2 separate regions of the Homo sapiens genome follow, and region 1 is linked to region 2. Evidence: fine-mapped expression QTL. A gene starts in region 2. The other region holds a variant in brackets. All regions are shown on one strand. Distances are between the middles of the regions. Region 1 has its middle 15 kb from the start of ARHGAP17. Region 2 holds the start of LINC02175 (long intergenic non-protein coding RNA 2175).

The links. PIP is the estimated chance that this variant, and not a neighbour inherited with it, causes the effect.
Region 1: its variant is the best candidate, but not a certain one, in a credible set for the expression of LINC02175 in cultured neurons (Aygun 2021, PIP 0.74).

What each region holds. Positions count from the first base shown.
Region 1 is chr16:25,027,233-25,032,720 of GRCh38, forward strand. It overlaps the pseudogene LCMT1P1. Among named protein-coding and RNA genes, the nearest start is that of ARHGAP17, 15 kb to the left of the region's middle. RefSeq lists an enhancer at 4,235-4,414. The variant C/T (reference allele first, on the strand shown) is at 2,383.
Region 2 is chr16:25,063,666-25,068,902 of GRCh38, forward strand. LINC02175 (long intergenic non-protein coding RNA 2175) reads left to right here and starts at 3,222. Exons shown (of 2, transcript NR_135197.1): 1 at 3,222-3,981; 2 at 4,114-5,237. RefSeq lists a silencer at 3,125-3,514.

The DNA of each region.
Region 1 (5,488 bases), 36 kb before region 2:
GTCTCGAACTCCTGACTTCAGGTGAACTGCCTTCCTCGGCCTAACAAAGTGCTGTGTCTCTCTCTCTCTTTCACACCCCCTTCATATCCAATGAACCAATGAATATATCACATTTTGTTCCTCTTTTCCCTGTCCCCATGTCTGTGGTCCATTCCTTCCTGTCCTTATATGGACTGGGGCAATTGACTCCTTACTGACCTTGCTGGTTCCACTCCTGGCCTCCCTTGAATCCATTCCCCACACCGCCATGAGGGTGGACTTTCTGGCATGAAAATCTGATAACGTTGCTTACCTACTTTAAATTATTTCAGGAGTTTCCACTGCCTGGAGTCCAAACTTTAACAGGGTATTTGAGGACTTGCCTTTAGAGCCTTGCTTTCTACTCATAGACCACCCTCCAGCCACGTGTCACTTCTTGCAAACCCCAAACAGACTATTACCCAAATAACTTTAAACCCATAAGCCTAATCATAGCAGGGTGATGCCTTCAACAAAGTTTGCACTAGAAACATTTTACTTTTATTTTATTTATTTATTTATTTTGAGACAGAGGCTCCCTCTGTCACCCAGGCTGGAGTGGAGTGGGGCACGATCTCAGCTCACTGCAGCCTCCACCTCCTGGGTTTAGCACCTAACCACGAGAAAGAGGACCACAGGGCGAGGTAGTCTTCAAAAACATGAGCTTTACAGATGTCCCCCAGGCTGGCCAATACAGGCAATTGAGGGACCTGTGTGGCACTGGCATAGGAATTGTGGGTCCCCGCTGAGGTGTGACTAATCGATGACTGTGGTGACAGGGAAACAGGAGTGGAGGTGTGAAGGGATGATGTGCATTTTCCACTTTGTAACTTAAATAAGAGTTCTTCCAGGAGCACGTATGCCTCTCGAGCCTGCTGCTTGGGGATATCAGAGAAGTGGAAGGTTCTATTAATGCCTTCTCCAAGAGCCCATGAGGCACTGTGGATTCTGAGATGTGAAATAAGTACCCTGATCACTACCAGTAATGTGTAGGACTTCCAAGAGTATATGGAGTGCCACAGTGAGACCTTATATTGTGGCCTTTGTATACGTAGATGTAGAGATATCTTTTTTTTTTTTTTTAATTGAGAGAGAGTCTCACTCTGTCGCCCAGGCTGGAGTGCAGTGATACAATCTCAGCTCACTGCAACCTCCACCTCCTGGGTTCAAGTGATTCTCATGCCTCAGCCTCCCAGGTAGCCAGCTAATTTTTGTATTCTTAGTAGAGACTGCCATGTTGGCCAGGCTAGTCTCGAACTCCTGACTTCAAGTGATCCTCCTGCCTTGGCCTCACGAAGTGCTGAGATTATAGGCATAAGCCACCACACCCGACCATTTTAAAAACATGAGTTATCTATTACCTCGGTTTATATTTTCAGTATTTATGAGGCAAGAGATTCCCAGAGTTCTTTATGAGCACAAAGGGAACAATTCTTAGACAATGGCCCAAGAGTTTGCTATAAATATGGAGATGGAGTCATTTGTTGGCTAGGGCATTGCTGTGGTCTGAATGTTTCTGTCTCCCTGAAACTCAAATGCTGAAATTTTAACTCCCAGTGTATTAGGATGTGGGGCTCTTGTGAAGCGATCAGGCCACGAGGGCAGAGTTATCATGAATGTGATTAGTGTCCTTATAAGAGAGACCTGAGAGAGACACCTCGCTCCTTTGACCAAGTGAGGATACAGCAAGACAGCATCATCTATGAGTCAGAAAGCAGGCCCTCACCAGACACAGAATCTGCCTTGACCTTGGACTTGCCAGCCTCCAGAACCATGATAAATAAATTTCCGTGGTTTATTTTTATGTATGTATATATGTATTTATTTTTTGAGACAGGGTCTCTCTCTGTCACCCAGGCTAGAGTGCAGTGGTGCAATCATAGTTCACTGTAGTCTTGAACTCCTAGACTCAAGTGATCCTCCCCATCTCAGCCCAGTCCCAAGGCTGGGACTACAGGTACACTCCACCATACCCAGCTAGTTTTTAAATTTTTTTGTAGAGATGGGGTTTCGCCACATTGCCCAGACTGGTCTTGAATTCCTGAGCTAAAGTGATCTTCCCACCTTAGTCTCCCAAAGTGCTGGGATTATAGGTATTAGCCACTGTGCCCAGCCATTCTTTTGTTTATAAGTCACTTAGTTTATGATATTTTGTTATAGCAGCCAAAATGGACTAAGATAGCCATTCAGTGCTTACTGCCTGAAGTGTAGCCACTTGGGCTGACAGTGTACCATGTTTCAATTTAGTGGGATTCCAGGTGGTTCTTCTTCTTCTTTTTCTTCTTCCTCTTCCTCTTCTTCTTCTTCTTCTTCTTTTTTGAGATGGAGTTTTGCTCTTGTCACCCAGGCTGGAGTCCAATGGCA[C/T]GGTCTCGGCTCACTGCAACCTCCACCTACTAGGTTCAAGTGATTCTCCTGCCTCAGTCTCCTGAGTACCTGGGATTACAGGCACCCGCCACCACACCTAGCTGATTTTTGTATTTTTAGTAGAGATGGGGTTTCAGCATGTTGACCAGGCTGGTCTCGAACTCTTGACCTCAGGTGAGCCGTGCACCTTGGCCTCCCAAAGTGCTGGGATTACAGGCATAAGCCACCGTGCCTGGCTGGATTCCAGGTGTTTTAAGGGTATCCCCACCCCTGTCCAAATTCCCTCAAGTTACAGGGTTTTTTTGTCATCAGATCACATGTGACTCTTCTCAGAGGTTATGAGGAAAGGGAGGCCAGCAGCCTGCTCTATGGGTAGCCATCCTCCTCCTCCAGAGAATGCCAGTCAATCTACTAGTGTCGTGGTCCACACCCAGTAAGTTCACTTTGTCTAGAGTCCAACTAACCAAATTTCCCTGAATTACCAGCTGTTTTGAATCAAGGCTCACCCAATAACAAAGGTGTGCCAATACATCTGCCTCCACCTTCTTCTAGTCACCTTCAGTCTCACCGTCCAGACCTGTGGGATTAACATCTTGTGCTACTTACTGTTTGACATTATCCACTAACACCCATGGAATTTAGACACTGCCAAGCTGGGAGACAATGCTTGCGCAGTGGTTTGTATTACCTTTTTGGTAGAGGAATGCTCCAACAAAATGGTGTATTTCAGCCCATTGCTGCTATCCCTGGCAAAACTTCCTAACCTCAGCCATTCCCCACTGTCATTTCTGCCTTGACTGTCAATGAGATCTTGTGTCTCCACTGAATACTAAGCAAGCATTTGCTATCTGATCTCACCCCAAGGTGTATATTCTGGGTTTCTGTTATTTTGCTTTAAAAAAAAAAAACTTATATAGAAAGGCAGTTTCATTGGCTCGTGGTTCTGCAGGCTTTACAGGAAGCATGGTGCTGGCGTCTGCTCAGCTTGTAGGCAGGGAAGCGAGAACATGCATATTTTACTTTCTGTGTCTGAGTTGTTTCACTTAAGATAATGGCCCCCAGTCGCAAGGATGTTGAGTTCTGCATGGCTGGGGAGGCCTCAGGAAACTTAACAGTTATGGTGGAAGGGGAAGCAGGTACATCTTACGTGGCGGCAGAAGAGAGAGAGCTATTTTGCTTTTTTAAATAGGTGTGATTCAAAGTTCTTAAAGTATACCCATTGCCTGTGTCCAACACCTGACAGATAATCAAGTGGAATACAGTAGCATAGTTCTTCTTTTATTTATAAAATATTTTATAACAAAACTAGTAAAAATAGATGCATCTTGAATATGCATCATAATGAAACAGACACACGTGAACTCACTCCCACCTGAGAAACTGAGAATGTGTCTATGTGCTCCTTCCCTGCCTCTCCCTACCCTCTCGTATGCTACCGTCCCACTCCCTAGAGGTCATCAATGTCCTGACTTTTTTTTTTTTCTCATGTCTTGGCTTTTCTGTACAGTATTTTACCGTATATGTATGTTTCTCTAAACAACATTAGTTTTACTTGGTTTGAACTTTACAAAAGTGTCGTTAGACTTCCTTCTTTCACTGAACATCACGTTTCTGAAATTCAGCCCTTGATGCTACCTGAGAGTTCGAGTTCATTGATTTTTACTGCCACGTGGTTTCCCATTCTATTACTTTTCCACACGCTACTTCCTTTACTACATTTCAAAGGCGATTATGTCTCTAAAGCTCTTAGCACAGTCCCTGGCATGGACAGCACTTAACAAAATTTTGTTAAACTGTTGAGTGACAACGAGCCCAGACTGAACGTAACAGCTGACATTTGCTTCTGGCTGGATTCTCTGCCCTTAAAATTCCGTGACGAGTCAGAAGAAACCTGGTGGCCTCTCCAGGCACCTAAGACTACACTTCCCAGAAAGCATCGCGGTACTCCGCCACTGACTTTTAGTTTCCTTTCTCCGTCGGCAAACTTCCGGGTTGGGTGGGCGGGGCCAAAAAACTTATCCAATGAGTACCTTTGTAGGCTGAGAGGAAGGGATAATTGCCCAATGAGCGACTAGGCAGAGGAGCCAATAGGCGGAGAGGCTGCTGGGGCAGCCGGCCTCCGGGGTGTCACTGAGCCGCGCCAGCTGAGCCAGGTGGAGCCCTACTTTCCTCTCCTGCTTTCTGCCTGTGACTAGCGCCGTCCCCTACCGCCCGTCGACCCCACTTCCATGTCTGGCGGACACAGCTCCCCGGAACCTCCACGCCCATGGCCACTAGACAGAGGGAGTCTTCCTTCACCTCCTGCTTTTCCACCTGGAATTGCGACGCGGGCGACGAGGGCGTGGGCTGCACCTGCGAAGATGCTTCCTTGTGCAAGAAGCGCCTGTCGGGCGCGGGATTCGGGGCTGGCATCTGGGACGCGGGCTGAGGTGGGAGGCGGGCCTGCATCTGAAGAATACGCTCGGAGGCTGGCAGGTTGCTGCCCCCGCCTCGCACGACCCTCGCTTCCCACCTGTGAAATGCACAGAACAGGGCTTCATTTATTTAACGAATCGTTTCTGAGCTCCTGCTGTGAGCCAGGCTTGGAGCAAGCCTGGGTACTGTGGATGGGAGCAGGCCCCTGAACCAGGCGGACGGGGTCTTGGCGTTCTCGGAGCTAAACGCTGCTAGAAAGACAAACATGATGCACCTAACTACTGTCTCCGTAGATTATGAGGATGAGAGGTGGAGGTTCTCTCTCTTTTAGGTATGATCCCCGTTGTGCACCTGAAACTCAGGCGATGACTTTCAGTGAAGGAAATGACCTGTCTAGGGCCACATAATACCTGTTTGAAAAGCCAGTACCACACTAAGTCTCCACTATTAAGGGTGTGATGGTGAGGGTGGGGTCGTAGGGAGCACAGGTATGTGTCAGAAAGAGAAAACATGAGGCTTGAGTGTCCTCCATTTATTCACTCATTCATTCTACAAAAATGGAGAGCTTACTTTGTGCCAGGGCCTTATTTGGGCTGGTTGGTGGGGATTCAGTAATGGGAATACACCAAGAACAAGACAGACGTGCTGCCAGACATACTGGAACTCACGGTTTAGTTGGGAAAGACTGACA
Region 2 (5,237 bases):
ATAATTTGGGCTTTGGCTGGGTGATTTGGGGGAGCTTCCACGATTCACTGTGTGAAAGCCTGTCCAGAAATCTCTCCTGCTACCCCTCCTGACCCTATATCAGGTTCACCTAACATGCAGTTCTACTGCAGACTCCATGCCTCTGCTCACGCTGTTTTCTTCTGCCGGGCAAACCCTTATCGATCTCTTTAAGGCTCACCTCCTCCACTGTGAAAAACAGAAAAGCAAAACTGACTTCTAGGAGCTTGCCTGGTGCTGTGAGCCAGGCCGTATGTTTTTGGAAGCTGGCTGGTGCCCACAACAAGGCCATGTTGTTCTCCTATTGGACATAAACAATCATGCAGACCACTCACACAAGGACACTCTGCAGTGGTGATGATAGGAGATGACACGAGACCACGTCATCATTCTGTGTAAGGACAAAAGCAAGGTCACTGTGCCACCCACAGAATACCAGACATTCCCTTCTCCCAGCTGATAGGAGTGACTGTGGCTTCTTTACACATTGTAGCTTTAGCCCTACTCCAGCCAAACCTCTTTCTAGAAAAGATACCGCTACCGGATGATAGAATTTTCCTACCTCCTATCAGCACTCGATCCAGAGCAAACCCCTGGACCCTCCCCCAAATCACCCAGCCAAAGCCCAGATCCTAAAGGTCTAACATCCTCTTACTGATAGGCTCCTCATGGTGTGAGTCTTCCCTCCTTGCAACAAGTAATAAACCCAACTTGCTTAACTACAAAGTGTTTCATGTGGTCTTTACTGGAGGACATTCACAACTGTAAGAGTAAAAAAGGATGGTTAAGTTTCTTGGGGAAGTTAAGGGAGTCTCATTCTGAGGGCTCCCATTTTCTATGTTAAGCAATAGGTGAAATTATCTTCTTTCTTTATTTTTTGAGATGAGGTCTCACTCTGTCACCCAGGCTGGAGCCCAGCAGCGTGAATATGGCTCAATGCAGCCTTGACCTCCTAGCCTCAAGTGGTCCTCCCACCTCAGCCTCCCATGGAACTGGGACCACAGGCTCTCATCACCATACCTGGCTAATTTATATATTTTTTTTGTAGAGATAGGGCCTTACCATCTTACCCAGGCTGGTCTCGAACCTCTGGCTCAAGCAATCCTCCCATCTTGGCCTCCCAAAGTGCTGGGATTACAGGCGTGAACCACTATGCCACAGTTGAGTTTAGAATGTTTATTTAAAATCTTGTGACACTGAACTCAATGACTAGTTCTCGGAAAACTTACTTTTTAATAGTGTATTGTGGTGTAAGGCCTGAAATTAGGATTCATATCAAATTCTGTCTTTACATCCATTTAAATCAAGAGGGCCTCAAATGGCTGAACTCCAAGCCTCGCTCCCTGTCTGCTTCCGCAGATGAAATTCTCTGGCTAAACACTCTCCTTATTTTAGGGATCAGACACAGAGCCTGCTTATCCCCAAACAGTAGGCTTCAGTTCCCTGCCAGCTCAAGGACGAATTATTCAGACAAGCCAGTCACACCCTCCCGTGGGAACCAGGGCTCACTCTGCACTTTTGTTACTACAAAGCCTGCCTCCAGCAGCCCCTCCTTGTTACCGTGTTCCGGAGTGTAGCCTCCACATTGCCCTGCATAGTGTGCAGGGTCCTTCTCCCCTGGACTGGAGTATCTGTGACCAGTCAGCTGCTGTTGATTGCATCCGTCCTGCATCAAGTGTTGTGTGTTCGGCCATCCCCGTATCTCTGGGGGTGGGGACAGGGGCGGGGGCAGGAGCGTGGGGGGAAGGAATCCCTCTTTCATCAATGGAGTAAAGAGTGTGAATAAAACGATTGGCATCACAAACAGTGTGGCCCATCCTTGATTGAGGACCCCTGGTTAGCTTTAACTAGCTGCTCCTTTACTAAGTAGCTGGTTTTGTTTGTTTGTTTATTTATTTATTTAGAGACGGAGTCTTGCTCTGTCTCCCGGGCTGGAGTGCAGTGGCGCGATCTCAGCTCACTGCAACCTCCTCCTCCCGGGTTCAAGCGATTCTCCTGCCCCAGCCTCCCAAGTAGCTAGGACTACAGGCGCCCACCACCACACCAGGCTAATTTTTGTATTTTTAGTAGAGACGGGGTTTCACCATACTGGCCAGGTTGGTCTTGAACTCCTAGACCTTGTGATCCACCCACTTCAGCCTCCCAAAGTGCTGGGATTACAGGAGTGAGCCACCGTGCCCGGCCTAAGTAGCTGGTTTTATAAGGCGGCCAGGACTATTGAGAACATCACTGCCAGTTGCTGGCCAGCTTGCCCTTCAGCTAATGAGTTTTGTTATCTCAGTAGGTGTTGCCACTTCTTCCCACCCTGACGAACGTTAATGGACTGTATCTCCTTGTGAGGTCCCATCAGGTGTGGCCCGTGTCGGCCAGGTGGTTTCCCAGGCTCCCACCTGGGGGCAGCAGCAACACGACATCCTAACGGGTGGGTGCCTGAGTTCCACTAGAGTGAGGCTAGACTCTGTGGTCTTTGGTCTAGCCTCATGACCATCGCTCCATCACCGGCTGCTTGGGACAGCCAGGCAGACACTGTTTGGGAAAGTGTTCCAGCATAGTCCTGTGGATAACCCTTTTTCCTTTCCCCAAACACCAGGGTTTTTGGAACCATCACCTGGGAAGATTTAGGAATGGCTCCCTGGTGGTCTCCTAACAGCCTAAAGACCCCATGGGCTTTTCTTGGCGGTGTTGCTTATCTGCATGCCAAAGGACCAATCCTGTGGGCAAGGGGCTCGATGGCCCCACCTGGACCCTAGACAAAATGAACGTACTAGGGGGATCCCAGCACTGAAGATTTGCCTGGCCTTCCTGGGGGAGCAGTATGGCCGCCCACGGAGCCGGCTGCTGGTCTCCCTTTCCCATAACCTCCCGGAAGATCCACACCACGAATGATCTGATGGGGACAAAAACCCCGGGACTCGAGGGACCGTTGCGGCGGACCCTTAAAACACCTGGCAATCCCATTAAATTGAAACATGGTACATATTTTGCTCTTCTAGTTTTGGCTAATACGTTCTATTTAAAGGGTCTCCCAGCCACAGTTTGCCAGCGGGCAGGCGGCGCCGCAGGAAGTGACCGGGCAAGAACGGGGGTCGCCGCCCAGCTCGGCCTTCTGGTCTCTGCGCCCTCGGCCTGGGGCTCCAGGCCACAAGGGGAGGCCGTGCTGGGCGGGCCCGAAGGGGGTGGGCGGGGCCCCGGAAGAGACGTGGGGGCGGGGCCAACGGACCGCGGAGGCGGAGCCGCTACAGTCTGGGCGCTGGAGCGGTGGGAGCAGCGCTCGTCCGCCGTTGGGGCCCCCAGCCCGCGCGCGTGAAGCAGCTAGCCGACCAAGCCCCGGAAGGCGAGTGCCGGAGGGGGCGGGACAGCTCCTCCGGGGCCAGCGGGCACCAGGCTTGGGGGCTGAGGCCCAGCGGCCCGAGACCAACTGGGCTGACCGAGGCCGCCTCCCCGCCAGCCCTGGGGTCCACTGCCCGGGGAGCAGCTCCCTTCCCAGGTCAGACTCGGGCTTCATCCTCTCTTGCCGCGCGCCGAGCGGTTTTCAACTCTCACTGCTAGAATTCCTCCAACCACCCAGGATAGCAGGACCGAGATACATGGCCACCCATGACCCGGAGCGTCCACTTCCAGGGACAGGCAGTGGTGATTGGCTTCGGTTGTCATCTGTGCCATCTGTCCATGGTTCGAGAAGCTGCTGTTCACGTTTTGGGGAGGATCATGGTTTGAGGGCTCCCGTGGTAGAATTTGGGGAGCTCTCATAGGCAGAAGGCTGAGAAAAGTTGGTGCTGTGGGAAGTCAACTGGCAGCCGATGGAGTCGGGACCCGGGAGGAATGGAAAGGGAACCCAGATAGGAAGCTACTGCAGTAGGCTCAGAGAGGTGATGACGGCAGGGCTAAGACAGCGGCCTTGGGCGGTGACTGGGAAGAACGTTGAACACCGTGTTTGGGCTGAAGAAAAGAGCAAGGGAAGAGGTGAGGAACTTCAGGTGAGGGTTGATGTAGATGTTACTTACACAGGTAACAGACATTCTTCACCTTTTCATTGTTTTACAATGATTCATTCTCTCTCTCTCTAACATATAATTGTGATATTTTCACCTGTAGTCCCAGCTGCTCTGGAGTTTGAGGCAGGAGGATGGCTTGAACCCAAGAGGTGGAGGCTGAAGTGAGCCAAGATCGCGCCACTGCACTCCAGCCTGGGCGACAGGGCAAAACCCTGTCTCTAAAAAGAACTTTTTAAAAAAGCACCTGTAGATTTAAGCACATAATAACTACACTTTTGTCTGTTTTATTATGATATCAAAGTTAAATTTATGATGAATGACTAACTGGACAAAACTGAGAGCAACCACCACAGAGGTGAATATACTGAATGTATAACACTCTCTAATAATTTTAAGAACTCCGCTCTAATGAGCAGATATCACAGAAAGAGACTTTTCAGATGAAATACCGATGACCAGGAAATCTGTGAGACCATTTTAAAAAATTCGAAGTCATTGAAGAAATGCAAAGCTTCCAGGCTCCACTTTTCACTGATGAAATTGGCAGAGTTTGGGACAATGAGATGTTGCTGTCCCGGGAGTGCGGATGGGGCTGTGTCCTGTGATGGCGGTGGGCACTGGCACTCTTGTCCAGAAAGACATTCACCACTGTGGTTCAAGAAGCACCTCAAAGGTCTTCACCTTGGTCCCTTGTCCACCTCTGCCCGCGGTCTCTCCTCCTTTCAGCCTCCTCTTTCCCACACAGTCCCTCCCGCCCTGGCTTGGTCCCCTTTCTTCTGACTGGGTCAGGCATGTGGGTGACTCTTTGACTTCCAAGGCTCTGTCTACTTGGCTTTTTTCTTTCACCTGTTCTGCAGAATAACAGCCTGATTCGTTCCTCTTTTTGGGTCCTTCACTTCCATACCTGGGATTCGGGGCGTGGCCCAGAAAGACCCTGCAGTCTTGCAGTGTGGGGCTGCCAGCATTTCATGGCCTCCAAGCTCAGCTGGGCTGAATGAACGCTGCCATCCAGCGCTTGGCTCATTTTCTGTCCCATTTTCCTGAGTGCTTTTGCCAGACTTACACTTTTCTGAAAGCTACTCCACCCTACCCCAGACACACCCTCTCTCCTCGGATGACCTGCCTCCTAATTTCCTGAGAAAACTGGACATGGCCACCTTTCCCCAGTGTCTGAGGCCCAGGTTGACCCGTGGTCATGGTCGCTGTCACCACCCACCTGCCTGT